Linked DNA regions of Homo sapiens. The protein of the gene in region 1 interacts with the protein of each later gene in a pairwise test. Each region holds a gene or a part of one and is shown in the gene's direction. Other genes may lie near its edges.

Region 1 (7,126 bases):
TTACAGGCGCCTGCCACCACACCTGGCTAATTTTTGTATTTTTAGTAGAGACAGGGTTTCGCCATGTTGGCCAGGCGGGTCTTGAACTCCTGACCTCAAGTGATCCGCCCACCTTGGCCTCCCAAAGTGCTGGGATTATAGGTGTGAGCCACTGTGCCTGGTCCATGTTTTCTTTATCCATTTGACTATCCATGGACATTTGAGTTTTTCCCCCTTATTGGCAATTCTTCTGCCTCAGCCTCCCAAGTAGCTGGGATTACAGACGTCTGCCACCACGCCCAACTAATTTTTGTATTTTTAGTAGAGACGGTTTCACCATATTGGCCAGGCTGGTCTTGAACTCTGACCTCAGGTGATCCACCCTCCTCGGCCTCCTAAAGTGCTGGGATTATAGGCATTTATTTACCGTTCTGCTTTCCCTTTGCTAGCAGGAATTTTCTTTCTCTCTCTCTCTCTTTTTTTTTTTTTTTTTTTTTTGCTTTATTGGGAGAAAAAGTGCTTAGAGTGTTCAGTTATTTTTTATATTTTTCTAATTCATTTCTTCTCTGGTTACAAATCAGTCATGCATGGATGTTTTATTTTTTCTGAAATCTCCAAGCACTTTAAGCAAAGGTTTTTATTAGCCCACTTGAGTAGTGTGTTCATGGGAGTATACTTCCATTGCGAAAGAAGTATTGGTTTACTTGTATCCAGAAGTTTTAGTTACTCTTGCCTGTACTGTATTCTAGGTCTGTACTAGCATTATAATTTTCCATCTTTCTCCTGTCCTTTGAGTACCTTATTTTTTCTTTTAGAAATTTGGTTTGTCTTTAATGGACTGAGAGGAATCTTTTCCTTTCTTTCTCCGGGTTCTGATTTTTTTTAAAGGTCTATTAACAATTTGTGCTTACTGTTGTTAGTATTCTTGTGTGCTTGGCTTTATCAGGCATCCTACAATGTAATGTTGGTTAGATGGGAATTAGAGGTGCTTGGAGGTTGGCTATGTCTGCCAACAGGCAGGAGGCCCCAAACTAACGTTTCCCAGTTCCATTAAAGGTTTCTAGAGCATAACTACTCTTCCTGTTTCATCTACCCCCTCCATACCCTCTTTGCTAACATTCTCAGTAGATCTTAATAAGCAGATGTCTGGAATTACAGCAGATTTTACCTCAAACAGTATTTTCAGATTTAGAATTTCTGTATCATTTTTAGGTGTTATGAAATCCAATCTAGGTGTAATGGAGTAAGAGAGTAAATATTTCTTTTTCCTAAATACTATTTGAAAAGAAGTCTGAAAATAGTGTGTTCCTCCACCCCCCCACCCATGCCCATCCTGCCAGTTTAGGAGCACTTTTGATTCTTTTTTTTCTTTTTCTTTTTTTTTTTGAGATGGAGTTTCACTCTTGTTGCCCAGACTGGAGTGCAATGACACAATCTCAGCTCACCACAACCTCTGCCTCCTGGGTTCAAGCGATTCTCCCGCCTCAGCCTCCCGAGTAGCCGGGATTATAGGTATGTGCCACCACACCTGGCTAATTTTGTATTTTTAGTAGAGACGGGGTTTCTTCATGTTGGTCAGGCTGGTCTCGAACTCCCGACCTCAGGTAATCCACCTGCCTCGGCCTCCCAAAGTGCTGGGAGCGAGCCACCATGCCTGGCCATGGAGCACTTTTGTTTCTTAATCTGGCCAATATTTTAAGGTTACAATTAGAATTACAGTTGTTTATATTTGTTCATTTAATGTAGTCAACATAATTTCCATACTTTGAACACTCTTACGGAATTGTTTATTTATAGAGACTAGTATAAAGTTGTTCTATCTTACTTAGTTTGAACTAATCCAGAGTTATACAATCTAGAAAGTAAAGAAAGTTTTTATTGTCTCTTAAATATCAATGTAATTGTAGAGTGTGAAATAATTTCTTGGGTTTCCTTGGTCCCGTGTTCTTCTGAGGCAGTGGTTCTTAACTGAGCAGTCACGTTAGAATCACCTGGGAAGCTTTTTAAAAAAAGAATCTGGGCTGGGCGCGGTGGCTCACGCCTGTAATCACAGCACTTTGGGAGGCCGAGGCGGGTGGATCATGAGGTCAGGAAATCGAGACCATCCTGGCTAACACAGTGAAACCCCGTCTCGACTAAAAATACAAAAAAATTAGCTGGGTGTGGTGGTGGGCGCCTGTAGTCCCAGCTACTCGGGAGGCTGAGGCAGGAGAATGGCGCGAACCCGGGAGGCGGAGCTTGCAGTGAGCCGAGATCGTGCCACTGCACTCCAGCCTGGGCAACAGAGTGAGACTCTGTCTCAAAAAAATAAAAATAAAAATAAATAAACAAATAAACAATCTGGCCGGGAACAGTGGCCTACGCCTGTAATCCCAGCACTTTGGGAGGCCAAGGCAGGCGGATCGCCTGAGGTCAGGAGTTCAAGACCAGCCTGGCCAACGTGGCGAAACCCCATCTCTACTAAAAATATAAAAATTAGCCAGGCGTGATGGGCACCTGTAATCCCAGCTACTCAGGAGGCTGAGTCCGGGAGAAGCACTTGAACCCAGGAGGCGGAGGTTGCATTGAGCCGAGATCGCGCCATTGCACTCCAGCCTGCAGCCTGGGCGACAGAGCGAGACTCTGTCTCAAAAAAAAAAAAAAAAGAATCTGTGCCTCACCCCTAGCAATTCAATTCTGTTTGGGCTAAGCCTGGGTTGGGACTCAGACATCAATACAGCTCTGCATAGAAGGTTTTACAGTATAGTCAGCAATAAGAACCTCTGTTTCAGGATAAAATGATTTCTACAAACATTGTTTCATTCTCTACATAATTAAATGTCACACCTCTACAGTCATGTGAAAGTTCCATTAAAAAGTTAGTCGCTATATAAAGTCTTTTATCATATGGCACTTGAAATATTTTGCTTTTGCCTTTGTATTTATAGCCATGAGTAAGTAGCTCAAAAAAGATGTACATATTCCTCTGCCAACTTTCCTGTCTCCTTGTCTGAATGAAAATTCATCATAAAGTCTCAGTGGTAAGCATTGACAGAGAAAATACCTAAGACTGTTTTCCTACAGAAACAGTCGTCTTGCTCTTTTTGTTCCTTTTTTATTAAGGATTCTTACAGCCTGAGAGAATGAAGAGCTGTGTAGTCCAGGATATCCGGCTGGCTACCATAGATCTGAGAGTCCAGTCTAGTACAGTAGATTTTTCTAAATACATAAGAATCAAAGATATGTATTGAATATCAAGCCAGCTTTAAACAAACATAGATACTAGTATAAAGTTGTTCCATCTTAATTTGAAGTAATCCAGAGTTACTACAATCTAGAAGGTAAAGAAGGTTTTTGTAATCTCTTAAATATCAATGCTAAAACTATTATGATAATGTATCACTTTGATAACAGATAAAACTTTTAAAAATGTAGCACTCATATTTTGATTCTGGTATTTATAAGTATAATAAAATACTTTATTTTTCCATAATTTCTCTCACATCTTAAAATTCTCACCAGAAATTCTCAAATGTAACTTCTAAGCTCTTTCTGTATTCATGGGAAACTTTAGCTATTTCACATACTAGAGAAAATAAAATAGACAGTCAAAGAATGATGAGCAAAGGCTATACAAAAAGTCTAGCTAATAATTTGCAGAGTAGGTTGTATTAGAAAATGTTCTAATAACTCAATGGAATGGGGCTATTGATTTGAAGTAAAATCTGGTATATTACAACATCAAAGATCTCCTATTATGCAAAACAAGTTTGAATGCACCTCATGTGTACTTGGTGTTTTTTTTTTAATAGATTTTAATTTGTTTCATTTTATACACTTGAAAAGTTTACTCCCTTATTTGATTCAACATATTTGCAAAATCTGCCAACAGTGTAAATGTTGAAAGTTCTAGATGGGGTTTTGAAGAAAGGGCCCTGGGTTTAAACTCAGTCTTGATGTATTATCAGCACCATTTAATAGCTAGTTGTTTGACTTCAGGTATGTTTCCTGCCTTCTCTGAGCCTGTGGTTTCTCAGCCATAAAATAGAGCTGATAGTACCTGCTCTACTACCTCACAAGATTTAAAAGAAAAAAAGATAGTGTAGGGCAGTGGTTCTCAAAGTGTAGTCCAAGGAGCCACTGGAGGTTTCATGGGTCAATAAGGATCTCCCTTATGTAAGAACAGATTCTCAATATACTTGAACCAAAACAAGAGATGACAACAGATTGAATGCAGAATCAGATAAGAGAGTCCAGCTGTATCTGTTAAAGCCAGATATTAAAGAGGATTGCAAAATGTAAATTAATATCACCCTTCTCACTTGTTTTTGAAAAATTTTTTAGGAAAAAATATGTTAATATGTAATGGGTTTATTGCTATTTTAAATATTTTAAAATTTCTTTTAATTTTGAATATAGTAAATATTGATAAATATAACCTATATAAACAACAGCTCTTCACAATCTCTAATACTTTTTTTTTGAGATGGAGTCTCGCTCTGTAGCCCAGGCTGGAATGCAGTGGTGTGATCTCGGCTCACTGCAACCTCTTCCTCCCAGGTCCCGGTTCAAACAGTTCTCCTGCCTCAGCCTCCCGAGTAGCTGGGATTACAGGCACACGCCACTGTGCCCAGCTTTTTTTTTTGTATTTTTAGTAGAGACGGGGTTTCACCATGTTGGCCAGGCTGGTCTTGAACTCCTGACCTTGTGATCCGCCTGCCTTGGCCTCCCAAAGTGCTGGGATTACAGGCGTGAGCCACCGTGACTGGTCTGTAATACTTTTTAGAGTGTGAGTGGATCTTGAGACCACAGCTTTTTAGAACTGCTGATAAACAGTAATGGTTGAGTAGGGCTGCTCTGCCTATGGAGTAGCCATTCTTTTATTTATTTTCTAATAAATTGCTTTCGTTTAAAAAGAACACAATGTTGGGGGAGGGGGTAATGGTTGAATAGTTCCTATCAGGACAGTTTCCTGCAGATAACTATAAACTTGATACACTTTTTTTTTTTTTCCTTTTGAGATGGAGTTTCGCTCTTGTTGCCCAGGTTGGAGTGCAGTAGCGTGATCTCAGCTTACCGCAACCTCTGCCTCCCAGGTTCAAGCAGTTCACCTGCCTCAGCCTCCAGAGTAGCTGGGATTACAGGCATGTGCCACCACACCCGCTAATTTTGTATTTTTAGTAGAGATGGGGTTTCTCCATGTTGGCCAGGCTGGTCTCGAACTCCCGACCTCAGGTGATCTGCCCGCCTCTGCCTCCCAAAGTTCTGGGATTACAGGCATGAGCCACTACGCCCAGCTGATAAAAGTTTTAAAAATTAATAGATGGCATTTGAGAATTACAAAAACTAGATTGAGGTCTGCAACTGGAAGAGGAGAACAGCAATGAATAAGCTTCTGTTTTTATGGCTTTTAGACTGGCATAAGGTCCCAGCTGGTGATATGAAGAGGTGGCTACAACTGTAATAACAACCTGTAATCTCTCTTGAAGAAAAGAGGACAGAGCTCACAGTGATCATGCAGCTGGAAAGTGCAGGAGAAAATCCTAGAAAGAATGTTGGAGTGGCAGAACCCCAAACACTGTTTATAAACTCTGCTTGAATTTCTTGCAAACCCCTCAACTGTACATGTGTGGAGCAGCCTCCAAACAGCACACTTAAGGCTAAAGGAGCAGAGATTTCAGCTGCTGTCCACCATAGGGGAGGCAGAACTTGGAGTTTAAGTCCAGCTAAGGTAATTGTCTGCAAAAAACAAAAACACAAACACTCTTTGGAAGAATATTACAGAATCTAGAGTGAATTGTATTAATCACAATACCTAGACTATAATCCAGAAACAATCACCCTAATCAGTGGAGACTGACCCCATAATTAGCCAAAGGTTGGATTTAGCAGAGAAGATTTAAAGCAGCAGCTATTATAACTATGCTCAAGGATGTAAAGCAAAATGTTGTATATGTGAACAAATAGGAAATCTCAGCAGAGAATTAGAAACTTTAAAAAAGAATGAAATGAAAATTTTACATCTGAAAATACAATATCTGAAACAATCTTGAATAGATTTAACAGATCAGATATGACAGATAAGTCATTTAATTTGAGGATAGATTAATAGAAATTATCTAATCTGAAGTAGAGAAATAAGTTATTGTATATGAAAGTTCTCTGTAAACTTCAGTGCTCTATGTAAGTTTCAGAGTTTATTACTCCAGGTTTCTTTCATATGTAAAGGGAAGAGGTATGTTTGGGTCTTCTGATCTGCAGCTTCCTTAATGTCCTGTCCTGTCATGTCTGTGTCTAAGCTTTATACCCTCTGGTTTCTTTATTTTTATTTTTTTATTTTTTTTTGAGACAGAGTCTCGCTCTGTTGCCCAGGCTGGAGTGCAGTGGATCTCAGCTCACTGCAACCTCTGCCTCCTGGGTTCAAGTGATTCTTCTGCCTCAACCTCCCAAGTAGCTGGGATTACAGGCATGTGCTACCACACCTGGCTAATTTTTGTATTTTGAGTAGAGACGGGGTCTCACCATGTTGTTCAGGTTGGTCTCAAACTCCTGGCCTCAAGTGGTCCACTCACCTTGTCCTCCCAAAGGGCTGGGATTACAGGCGTGGGCCACTGCGCTTGGCCTAGCCTCTGGTTTCTAATATCCCCTGCAGTCAGATATTTGGCCCTTGCTGCTTTCCTGTACTATTGTCAGAGGTTACCAGGAATCTTTTGGTCAGTACACTCGACATGTTTGTAATGGGCCTCACCCCCATGTTTCTCTTCAGTGTTTTGCACCATTGCCATCTCCTTTCTGCAAGGTCATTGCCTTTCCTCAATGACGATGTTTTCTTTTTTCTCCTCCTCTGTCTTATTTTGTCTTTTCTGTTTTCCAAAGATTCATTCTTAGCTTTTTTCCCTCTTATTTCATTCTACTTTTTAGTCTACTTTATTATTTTCATACTTGGTTACTTCAGCCTTGTCGTTTCAGAGGCCTCTTCTCCCTCTCTGGCTCTGCTCTCTCTAGAGCCCTGTCCTGCTTCTTGTCCCCGCTGATCACTAAACATTTCTACTTAGATACCTGGTAGACACTTGGAGCTCAGAGTGTCTGAAGTGAAACCCCTATTCTTCTTCTTCTTTTTTTTTTTTTTGAGGTGGGGTCTCAGAACCTCTTATCAAGACGGTTTCTG
Region 2 (3,711 bases), on another chromosome or scaffold:
CCACGTTCGCCCCCTTTGTTCAGTCCACCAGGTCTGTGCAGGTATAATGGAGTTTTTCAGCTCCATTATAATCTTATAGGACCACCATCATATCTGTGGTCTGACATTGATGTATATGTATATACCTATATATGTGTATATATATACCTTTATATGTATAGTTATATGTATATATATACACCTATATATGTATAGTTATATATACATGTATAACTATACATATATAATATACATATATAGTTATATAGGTATATATATACATATATAGTTATACATGTATACCTATACATATATAGGTATACATTATATAGGTATATATAATATATATAATATACATGTATACTATGTATACATATATTATAGTTGTATAATGTATACATATACATAACTTTATATTATAATTGTACTCCCTTTCAGAAGCAATGTCTCTATGGTACAGTGAAAACAATACTCTTTGAGGGTCAAAGGGCTATCCTGGCTCTCTTTCTCATTTAACTTGTCTGGATCAGTGTCATGTTTGTAAAGTGGGAGGACTGGCTTGAATTCGCTTTCAGTTCTTACTTTGCTGTGAAATTATTTTGCTCCTGAAAATATTTCTGACTATTGAGTGCATGCTAGAGAAAAATATGTTTATGGTTCTCTCGGCCAATATTAGGAAAGATTTGAGACTAGCAATTCATTCCTTCAATATTTAAGGATACTTTTTTCTTTTTTTTTTGAGACTAAGTCTGGCTCTGTCGCCAAGGCTAGAGTGTAGTGTCTCGATCTTGTCTTATGCAACCTCCGCCTCCCAGGCTCAAGCCATTCTCTCACCTCAGTCTTCCGAGTAGGTGGGACTACAGGCATGCACCACCATACCTGGCTGATTTTTGTATTTTTTGTACAGATGGGGTTTCACCATGTTGGCCAGGCTGGTTTTAAATTCATGAGCTCAAACAGTCCATCTGCCTTGGCTTCCCAAAGTGCTGGGATTATAGCTATGAGCCAATGCACCTAGCCATAGTTAAGGATAGTCTATAATTACCTCTGTTTTACTTAAGTGAAGTGATGGGCAACTCTATACTCTTAATGATAATGGTTGGCCAAGTTATCAGTCACATGATGACTACTTAGTCTGTGCTTGCCCTACAGTAGCAATTGCAGAATACTTTAGCTAGAACTTTTTTTTTTAAGTTTTTAGCACTATAGAAGTAGTGAAAAAGCAGATGTTACATTAACAAAACAAGAGAAATTCATGTAAAAAGGAAAGCTTATCTGAGTTTTTGCAAGAATAGACTTAATTTTGCCAGTGACAATTATGTGTTTAAATATTACATTCTGATTTCATCACATGTATTTCCTGAGAGGACAGTGGAAGTAAAAGAAGTTCTAATGCTACAGATTTGAGAATGTTCTGAAAGCGTCGTACCTTTAAGAGTTATCTCCAGAACATTCTTGCTGTCCTAGTGCCACAAACCATGCTTGTGTTTTTTGATTTGCCTATCTCAGATACTTTGGGATTCTGCAGAAATGAAATACAGTGATTTTGTATTAATTGGGAAATTCTTAATATATAATTCAATTTTTAATCTTTTCTATGCTTCTGATTCTGAAATATATCATTTGCCATCTCCTTGTATAAATATTATGATTGTCCCTGCTTCAAGGAAACATTTATATGATCTTGATGATTTCTTTGTTAGGTTTTGGTATATTTTACAAATTTCCACCACTTAGGCTTAGGATTAGACCAAGCCTGCCACATTCCCAAGGTACCTTTTGATAGAGATGTTTATACAAGGTACACAGAATAACACGCAACATCCTGTTCATAATTTGGAGTGGCTTTTCAGACACAAACAGCATGTCTAACTGGTTACTTGAAAAAATTACATGTTGTATACATATCAATGCTTGATTTGTTTTAATGGAAAAAAATGGCTTGTTTTGTCTTACAGATATGATGATATGTTAGTGGTACCCATTATTGAGAATACACCTGAGGAGAAAGACCTCAAAGATAGAATGGCTCATGCAATGAATGAATACCCAGACTCCTGTGCAGTACTGGTCAGACGTCATGGAGTATATGTGTGGGGGGAAACATGGGAGAAGGCCAAAACCATGTGAGTGTAAATCAGAGAACATGGGGAACAAGTTACCACCCGCTAAATGTGAAGGAAAACAAAGTATGTCAGTTGGTTTAAATTTAAATTGTTTATCATTATTTGTAGATACTTTATTTTTATTATGTATCCATTCATGAAGAAGTATTGATTGGATGAGCTGTTGTTTGGCAAGGCTCTAGGAATGTTGATAGAGGAAGAAGACACAGATCCCAAGTTACAAAAGTTCTATTTCAGAAAGTGACATCTAGTTTAAAAAAAATGTAAATTTATGTAGGCAGTATATTTTAAACTCTCTTTTATTTCCTGAGAGGTATGTAATATTGTTGCATGACTTAATATGATTCCTTTCTGTGTTTTAAAAATGTTGAGGGAAAAATAGAATTTTGGCCTAGAATTGAGAGAAAATACATACTAGGAACAAAGCAGAGTTAACTGCAAGAGAGGAGAAATGTGATTCTTTAGGATTGGAGAACTCTGTTTCGATAAACACTGGTTCTTTTTGCTTTTTCTTTTACAGGTGTGAGTGTTATGACTATTTATTTGATATTGCCGTATCAATGAAGAAAGTAGGACTTGATCCTTCACAGCTCCCAGTTGGAGAAAATGGAATTGTCTAAGCCAAAAGAAAGTCTAATTATATACAGAGATAAAGCTAAACGTAATTATTATTTAAATGAAAGCTATTTTTTTAAATGAATTGAAATTTTTCATGATGCTACTAATTTGCCACTAAATACTGCAAATGGTCACCCTGAATCTCTTCTGACATTGGATGTTATTTGCTTATATTCTTATAATTTTAAATGAGGGCACAGTGAAATGAAAATTTTATACTCTATGTTTCTGTTTATTTTTAAATCCTTAACAGCAAAATATTTGCCTTTAATTTCTTTTTTATATATACTCTCAGAGAATTCCTCTTAATTTTTAAAGATGCTGGTGATAATAAAATTCATTAGAAAATTTCCTCATTGTGGAATGAGCATTCTCTTGTTTTAATGTTGGTGTCAGAAAATAAATATGAAACATTAAGTCCAAATTTATCCCTCAATGTTAATGTCAAAATAATTTTATAGATTTCCCCTATTAGCTTTAGTGTTTCCCTGTGGTCTACAACAGGACACTCATTTTATATTGGGATCAGTTGTGAAATTCAGGTCAGGTGGTATCAACTCAAATTCCCTTAACCAAACAAATCTTGATCAAACCGATGATGTAATCAGAAAGTCCTTTCTTTAAAATTGTTTTAAATTTTAGGTTTGGGGGCCCACATGAAGGTTTGTTACATAGACAAACACATGTCACAGGGGTTTGTTGTACATATTATTACATCACCCGGGTATTAAGTTCAGTATCCAATAGTTATCTTTTATGCTCTTCTTCCTCCTCCCACCCTCCGCCATCAAGTAGACCCCAGTGTCTGTTGTTTCCTTCTTTGTAGTCATAAGTTATTGCCATTTAGCTCCCACTTAGAAGTGAGAACATGCAGTATTTGGTTTTCTGTTACTGTGTTAGTTTGCTAAGAATAATAGCCTCCAGCTCCATCCATGTTCCCGCAAAAGACATAATCTTGTTCTTTTCTATGGCTGCATAATATTCCATG
Region 3 (7,126 bases), on another chromosome or scaffold:
AAAGCCCCAGAGTGGGGATCCCAGGTAGAACCAGGAGGAACCTGCAGAGGCTTCCCCACTCCTACCCCTCAGGCTGGGCTAAGGGCCCCGGTTCTGCCCTGTCTTAAGAGTGGCCACACCTCAGCCTAGTTTTCAGCTCCTTAAAGCAAAACAGTATCTCCTCTGGGTCAGGAGGCTAAGCAGGTAGAACATGTGCAAGGAAGATTTTCAGAGCAGTGGGCTCCTTTCCTGCAGGGAACCAAGACTCCTGTGGTAAGGGGGTTGCCAGGAAAAGGACAGAATAAAGCAGCAGCCCATTCCACTGAGATGAGTGTCGTCATCAGCATCTTCTACCTGATCTGAGTTTCTTTATATGGAAAGTGGATTACCCAGCTAAAGACCCCCAAGTACTGTCATCTCTCCATGCTGTTTTCTCTGGAAGCGTTGAATAATGCCGCTACAGCTGCTGCTGCTATTGCTTGATTTGCAAGAGAAAGAGCAAAGTGCAAAATAAAAATATTTATCCCATGGTCATCTTGTGCTTCTCATACTCTAGCCCATCTGGACATCAGGGGCCTCTTTGAGGCACTCGGACCACATGTTTGCAACATTGGCTGTCATGCAGGCACTGGGCATCCCCTGCCAGCTCTTGCCCATGGACGGAAGGCACAAATGCCTGTGTCAGCTGATTAAAATGTTCTCAGTCAACATGTCTAGACAAGTATCCACTTATCTTACACCCAGAAATGATTGTGGCCATAGCTACGTTTAGCCATAACATTGACCTGCTTGTTAACATTGTTCCTGAGTTGCTGCCTCCCCCTCATTCTCTTTTGTCTTCCCATTCAGTGGCTTATGTGTGTGTTTTAATACCTGTTTTGTTAGGTTTCTGTTTCAATTCAACAGATTATTTTAAGGCTGGAGGAAAGGAAACCATGCCAAAAGACCAGGTGTTCTTGCTTTCAGAAATGCAGAAATGGACAGGTTTTCTTTATTGCACATCTTGCAGGAGTCGAGGCCTAAAGTTGTTTATGTCTCTGACTCTATGATGGCAGCTCCATCAGGTGGCACAGGGCAGTACACTAGCCTTCCAGCTGTCCACCAGCCTCCCCCAAACCATCACAAATCAACACCTAGGTTCAAGTAAAAGCCACATGCCTGCCCTCCAGGTGCCCATCCCTGCCTGTCTCTAGCCTCATATCTCTGTCCCACACCCTCCTGTGGCCACCAAAGGTGACCGGGAGCTTCTGATGAAGGGTGCCCATTGGCAAGCTTATGCCTCCCCTTGGTCAATATATGCGTTCCATCCAAGAGGATAGAAATTGGGTTCTCACCGACACAATCAAACTTGAAATACCCAAAGACATTTTTTCTACTAAAAGAAACAAGTCTTGGGTGAATCCTTTCACATCTCAGTTTTCTCATCTGCAAAATGGGAATAATAGTGGTTCCTAATTCACTGGGCATTGACGAGGGTTACAGGATTTAAATCATGTAAAGCACTTAGAAGAGGCCTGACCAGCCCTAATCTACTCAGCTCCTTTTATCTTCACTGAATGAATGAATGAATGAATGAATGCAAATTGAGCCTCTACAAACATGTCGTAAGTGAAAAACGCACATGCAGATTTGATTAGTGACATAACAAGAAGTGGAAAAAAATCACCTCTTAGATGTGGACATGTTTAGTACTTTATGTTTGCAGTTTGCACTGTGAAATACCTTTTTTTTTTCCAGGACTACACTTTGTTATATGAAGAGGCAAAATATTTTCAGCTTCAGCCCATGTTGTTGGAGATGGAAAGATGGAAGCAGGACAGAGAAACTGGTCGATTTTCAAGGCCCTGTGAGTGCCTCGTCGTGCGTGTGGCCCCAGACCTCGGAGAAAGGATCACGCTAAGCGGTGACAAATCCTTGATAGAAGAAGTATTTCCAGAGATCGGCGACGTGATGTGTAACTCTGTCAATGCAGGCTGGAATCACGACTCGACGCACGTCATCAGGTTTCCACTAAATGGCTACTGTCACCTCAACTCAGTCCAGGTATAGCATTGTTACGCACTGTGTGGCATCAAATGCCACTCTTACTGTTGTCACTTAACCTTGCCCTCACATGGTGCCTTTCCTCCAAAGAGCTTAGAAACTCACTCAGTGACACTTCTGTTGGGTAGGTGAATTATCACCCTCTATAGCAGTCATTCCGTAAGTCTTGTGATTGTGCCAGGTGCTGGGATGAGCACTGGAGATACAGAAGAGACAGATATAGAACACGACAGCTGGGCACGGTGGCACACGCCTATAGTCCCAGCCACTCCAGAGGCTAAGGCAGGAGGATCACTTGAGCCCAGGAGTTCAGGTTCAGCCTGGGCAACATAGTGAGACAGACAGACACAGAACACGATGGACAGCTCTGTGTTCATGGAACTGCATTATGGGAGTGGAGTGGGAGGCAAACAGTCAACATAAATATATTGCCCAGGAGGTGGTAAGTGGATTTCTGGGGCAGAGTATGCTGGCATATTGAGGACTATCAGGAAAGCCAGTTTGGCTTGAAGAAAGTGACTCAGGGAGAGAGAGTACCCAGACAGGAGGCCCGGGAAAATCAGGGACAGATCACGGAGAGCCTCGTTAGGAGGTGGCAAGTGCCCTAGGATTGTTTATTTTGGCATCTTTTGGTTTTGGTTCGTTTGTGTATGTGAGCCAAATGGAAATCCATTGGAGGGTTTTGAGCAGAAGGGAGAACTGACAGAACTCGTATTTTAAAGTGAACATTGCGACAGCAGCTAGAGAATAGGAGAAACAAGGAGACCAGGCAGCAAGCTGTGGTTCAAGCAGCTGAAAAGTGTCCAGTTGTGTGTGTCTGGAGGGTAGAGCTAATAAGGTTTTCTGACGATGGCTGTGGGTTGTGAGACATAAGCCCGGGATGACTAAGATTTTTGACAGAGGAACTGGGTGAGTGGAACTGCCATTTCCTGAGATGGAGAAGTGTAGGGGAGCAAGAGATGTGGGGGTGGAATTGAGAACTCAGAGGCTAATGTGTGCTGAGCACCGACTCTCTGCCCTACCCTGGGCCATGGCCTGAGCATGTGTTGTCTTCTTACAACCCTAACAGGTAAGCACTGTTAATCCTCTCTGTCTTGCTGATGGGAAGGCAGAGGCACACCTGGGTCTCGATTCCAGCTCCGTGTGACACAAAACCATTTGAAGTCAATGGAGTGAGGGTTCTAGTTTTTTCCCTCTTTTTAACTGGAATGGGCCCATGACTTTGTTCAGTATTTAGTCAGCAGAACCCTTCCCAAAGCACAGAGACTAGAAGCACCCACTCTTCTGTGCTGCCTCTTGAGGATTGTTCCACTACTATTTATAACTCTTTAAAATATATGAACAGATGTCTGAGAACAGAAGAGCAGAAAACTGGCAGAAAATGTTCCCTAAGCATGCTAGCGGAAGGCACATGCTCCCAGGCGGCGGGCTGGCTGCTGGGTCGCAGGGTTCCCGAGGACGAGATTCGCGTTCTCACCTGTGCGGAGAGCGTCCCCTGGAGGTGTGTGGTGCTCCCGCATGGCCCTGCACAGCGTTCCTGAGACGGCCTCAGCAGTTTAAGCCTCTTTAAAGCCCAGAAAGCCTGTCCCCTTCCACACAACAGCCTGCCCTGGCTATCACTGGAGCAGACAGAGGGGCAGAACCATTCAGAGCCAGGACAGGAAGGCCTCGGCCACACCTTTGGGCCAGTGAATAACGATCATCAATTCATGTGCTTGACAGTTTCCCACATCAGATATGGAAATTTTCATCTGGATTAACGTGGTCATATGACACAGCCATGACCTACCCTTGCGTCCTGCTCCACCGACCAAGAAATAGGCACCAGCCTATGGGCACGCAGAGACTCTGGGATAAGGCTTACGACACCCGATACCTCACTAAGTTGTTGTGTGATCACTGTTTAAGGAACTTTGCTGTGAACGTGTTGTTGTTTCCAAAGTAATGGCTCCATCAGCTGTTTGCATTACATTGAAATAAGCTTTTGACCACATCCAAGGTAACATTGGATCACATTGAATAATTATCACATGATGCCTATCGGACTCCGAAGAAGAGCTTAGCGATTTCCTCCTGTTAGCATTTAGTGACCTTAAGACTCAAAGAAAAATGGACATCAGGGTTAGGTTCTCTGCTGTTCATGGCTTCCTCCCCTTTGGATTTCCTCTCCTAATCATGGCAAGGGATCTTTTCCAGGGTGCTGGTTTGGCCAAGCAAGCTGGGATGCCTCTTGCTGAGGGCTGCATTCCTGCCTCTGCTGGGGAATCCATGGAGGGAGCTGTTCTTCGTCTTTGTATTTACCTGCCACCAAAGCACATCTTGATTTTGAATTTAGGGATTGTTTTCTTCCTGTCCTTATGCTGACAGGTATGCATATGCATTGTGAATTTACCTACAGAAATAGAGCACTGCTGGGTAGAATGTTAATTTTGTTCTTATAAGGACTTGTGTATGTTTTTTTAATTTGCCAGCACTTGAGGTTTTAATTAATTTTTAGAAAACATACTCTCTTGCTTTCCCATCTCATCTAGTAAGCTGTTTTGCAACATAGCAGACTATATTCTATATTGAAGTAGGCAACTAAAAAATAATACTTTTTAAAAAAGTAAGGATTCACTTTACATTGACTACATTTCAGTTCATTCCAATAAAAGTTTTTTTGAGGTGGGTTTTTTTGTTTTGTTTTTTTTTTTTAAGTTATGATTGAATCACTTTGCCTTTAAGGTGGTGTGGAAGTAATTTAATTATATTCAGAACTCGGGCAGGAAACATTTGCAAGTCTAATATTTGTTGGATTCCTAAAGAAACAGAATGCTCCAGATCAGTTTCCTGTATTTTTGTCTATCTAATCTAAGAGTCACAGGTACTGTTTCCTGCATTTAACAGTGTCAGACATGTAGTGCCAAACCCAGGAATCTTGCTGGCGTTAGGTTTTTGATTTCAAAATTAAGGAACAGATTCTATGGCTTACATTTGTATAAGAAGTTTAGAATATCTTTATTTTTCTTACATTTTCTAATATGTAATCATTGTGCTGGTTCTTGTCTCCTTGAATGAATGCAGGGCAATAAATCTGTTTCAGATGTTACAAACTTGAAAACCTGTAGATAATCCTCTAGTGTCTTCAGTAATCCCTTTGTTCTGCTATTGAAATTACATCAATCTTCCAGGCCAAAACATATATATTAACTCGGTATTAGGAAAACTTGAACAAAGGCGGAGTTGAGAGTACAAATGAATCACTGACTAAGTAAACTCTGCCATCACTGTCCTTTCCAGATTCTTTATCATCTCATAGGATGTATTTTAGTGATAAATGAGCTTTGAAATGTGAACCCTCATTTTTGACAGAGAGGGCAGCATTGCATATACAAAAACAGGAGATTTGAGGCCAAACAGACCTGAGTTGGAAACCCAGTCCCATCACTGACTAGCCATGAACCTCAGTTTTCTCATTTATAAAATGGGCCTAACACCATCGAGTGTTGTAGCTGGTGTGTGTAAAGCAAGCATGAAAGGCACATTTTAGGCATTAGAAATGCTTGCTTCCTCTCTCCTGCCCATTAATCCAGGGTCTTCCTTTGAGAGGAGCAGCTCACAGGGACATGGGTGCTGGATGAGATGAACCAGAGTGCGCATAATCTCAAACTTTGGGGTGTTTATGTAGCCATAGGACTTACCTCACCCCTAACTGGATGCTTGTCTTGTTCCCTCGCAGGTCCTCGAGAGGTTGCAGCAAAGAGGATTTGAAATCGTGGGCTCCTGTGGGGGAGGAGTAGACTCGTCCCAGTTCAGCGAATACGTCCTTCGGCGGGAACTGAGGCGGACGCCCCGTGTACCCTCCGTCATCCGGATAAAGCAAGAGCCTCTGGACTAAATGGACATATTTCTTATGCAAAAAGGAAAACACACACAACCAATAACTCAAACAAAAAAGGGACATTTATGTGCAGTTGGGACAGCAAACCAAGTCCTGGACGTAAAATCGAATAAAAGACACATTTATATCCAATAGAGACCACACCTGTATTCATATGGGAACAATTGGAATAGTGATATCCTCAAGGTGTAAAAAATATATAAATATATATATATATGTCAAAAGGTAGGAAATGCAAAAAAGAAAAAAAAAAAAGGTGACAGCCGCAGTTGGTGCTGTGATGGCCGTGAAGTGTCCTGGGCCTTCCGAGGCCTCTGACAAATAAACAAGCCATGAGTGGTGAGGACACAGTCTCCTTACAGTTTCCATTGCCAACAACAGCCATCCATATTTCTTTTTTCCTTTGTCTTTCTTTTTCCTTTTTTTTTAAAAAAACAAAACAAACAAAACACCTTGAATCAAGTTTGTTTGTATATGGAGGTTCCACGTCTTTCTTTAGGCAGGGACCAGGCAGGACTTCAGAAAAACCCTCATGAGCACATTGCAAAGATGTTAGACATGAAATTTTAAATGTAGTTTGTACAGAAGTCACACTTTTTTGTCCACCTCACAGATGTGAACTTTACTTTGTTTTAAAACTGATCAGTTTTGCCAAGGGGCCAGAATTATTCCTTGTTAGAATTGCTCCAGTTCAAGTCTGCTGCTTTCCTACAATTTTTCAAATTTTATAATGTATTAAATACAATAAACTCTGTTTAAAAAATAAGGTCTGTGTGAAACACACATGTGGGGGTGAGGCTGGATTAAAGTGAAATTTTTTCTTTTTGAAATTGTCCGTGTTGAGCATCAAAAAGAGGCATGAAAGCCGGGGTCAGTTTTGAAGTCAAAACCTACTAAAGGCTAAGGATGTCATCACCTGTTCCAGACAGTTGTCTTCCGACCCAGCAAATGTTATTTCCTGTGCTTTGTTATTCTGCATTGGTCAGCAAGGTAAATCTTCCTTCTTACGGACTTTTCGGTTACACCTATTTCAGTTATCTGGCTGCAGAGCAAGTCACACCAAAATTTAATGGCTTAAAACATTTTGTTCTGGCCTGTGATACTGGCCTTCGCTGGGCTGCATCTGCTCCATGTCTGCTCCACTGCTCCAATCCAGGGGTCTGATTGGCGTGGAATGTCCTAGATGGCTCACCCAGATGGCTGCAAATACTTGGCTGTTGGCCT

The links.
Region 2: the proteins of ZBTB25 (region 1) and APIP interact in binary tests that used the Homo sapiens proteins (3 or more experiments, as listed by UniProt).
Region 3: the proteins of ZBTB25 (region 1) and KCTD1 interact in binary tests that used the Homo sapiens proteins (3 or more experiments, as listed by UniProt).

Annotation. Positions count from the first base shown.
Region 1 is NC_000014.9:64,493,806-64,500,931, reverse strand, and holds part of ZBTB25 (zinc finger and BTB domain-containing protein 25), read left to right. Parts: intron 1-478; exon of another isoform or gene 479-1,491; intron 1,492-2,939; exon of another isoform or gene 2,940-2,999; intron 3,000-5,372; exon of another isoform or gene 5,373-5,689; intron 5,690-7,126. UniProt on the Homo sapiens protein: May be involved in transcriptional regulation.
Region 2 is NC_000011.10:34,881,731-34,885,441, reverse strand, and holds the end of APIP (methylthioribulose-1-phosphate dehydratase), read left to right. Parts: intron 1-1,937; coding exon 1,938-2,105; intron 2,106-2,625; coding exon 2,626-2,725; 3' UTR 2,726-3,147; downstream 3,148-3,711. UniProt on the Homo sapiens protein: Catalyzes the dehydration of methylthioribulose-1-phosphate (MTRu-1-P) into 2,3-diketo-5-methylthiopentyl-1-phosphate (DK-MTP-1-P).
Region 3 is NC_000018.10:26,454,516-26,461,641, reverse strand, and holds the end of KCTD1 (BTB/POZ domain-containing protein KCTD1), read left to right. Parts: intron 1-1,716; coding exon 1,717-2,022; intron 2,023-5,740; coding exon 5,741-5,899; 3' UTR 5,900-6,732; downstream 6,733-7,126. UniProt on the Homo sapiens protein: May repress the transcriptional activity of AP-2 family members, including TFAP2A, TFAP2B and TFAP2C to various extent.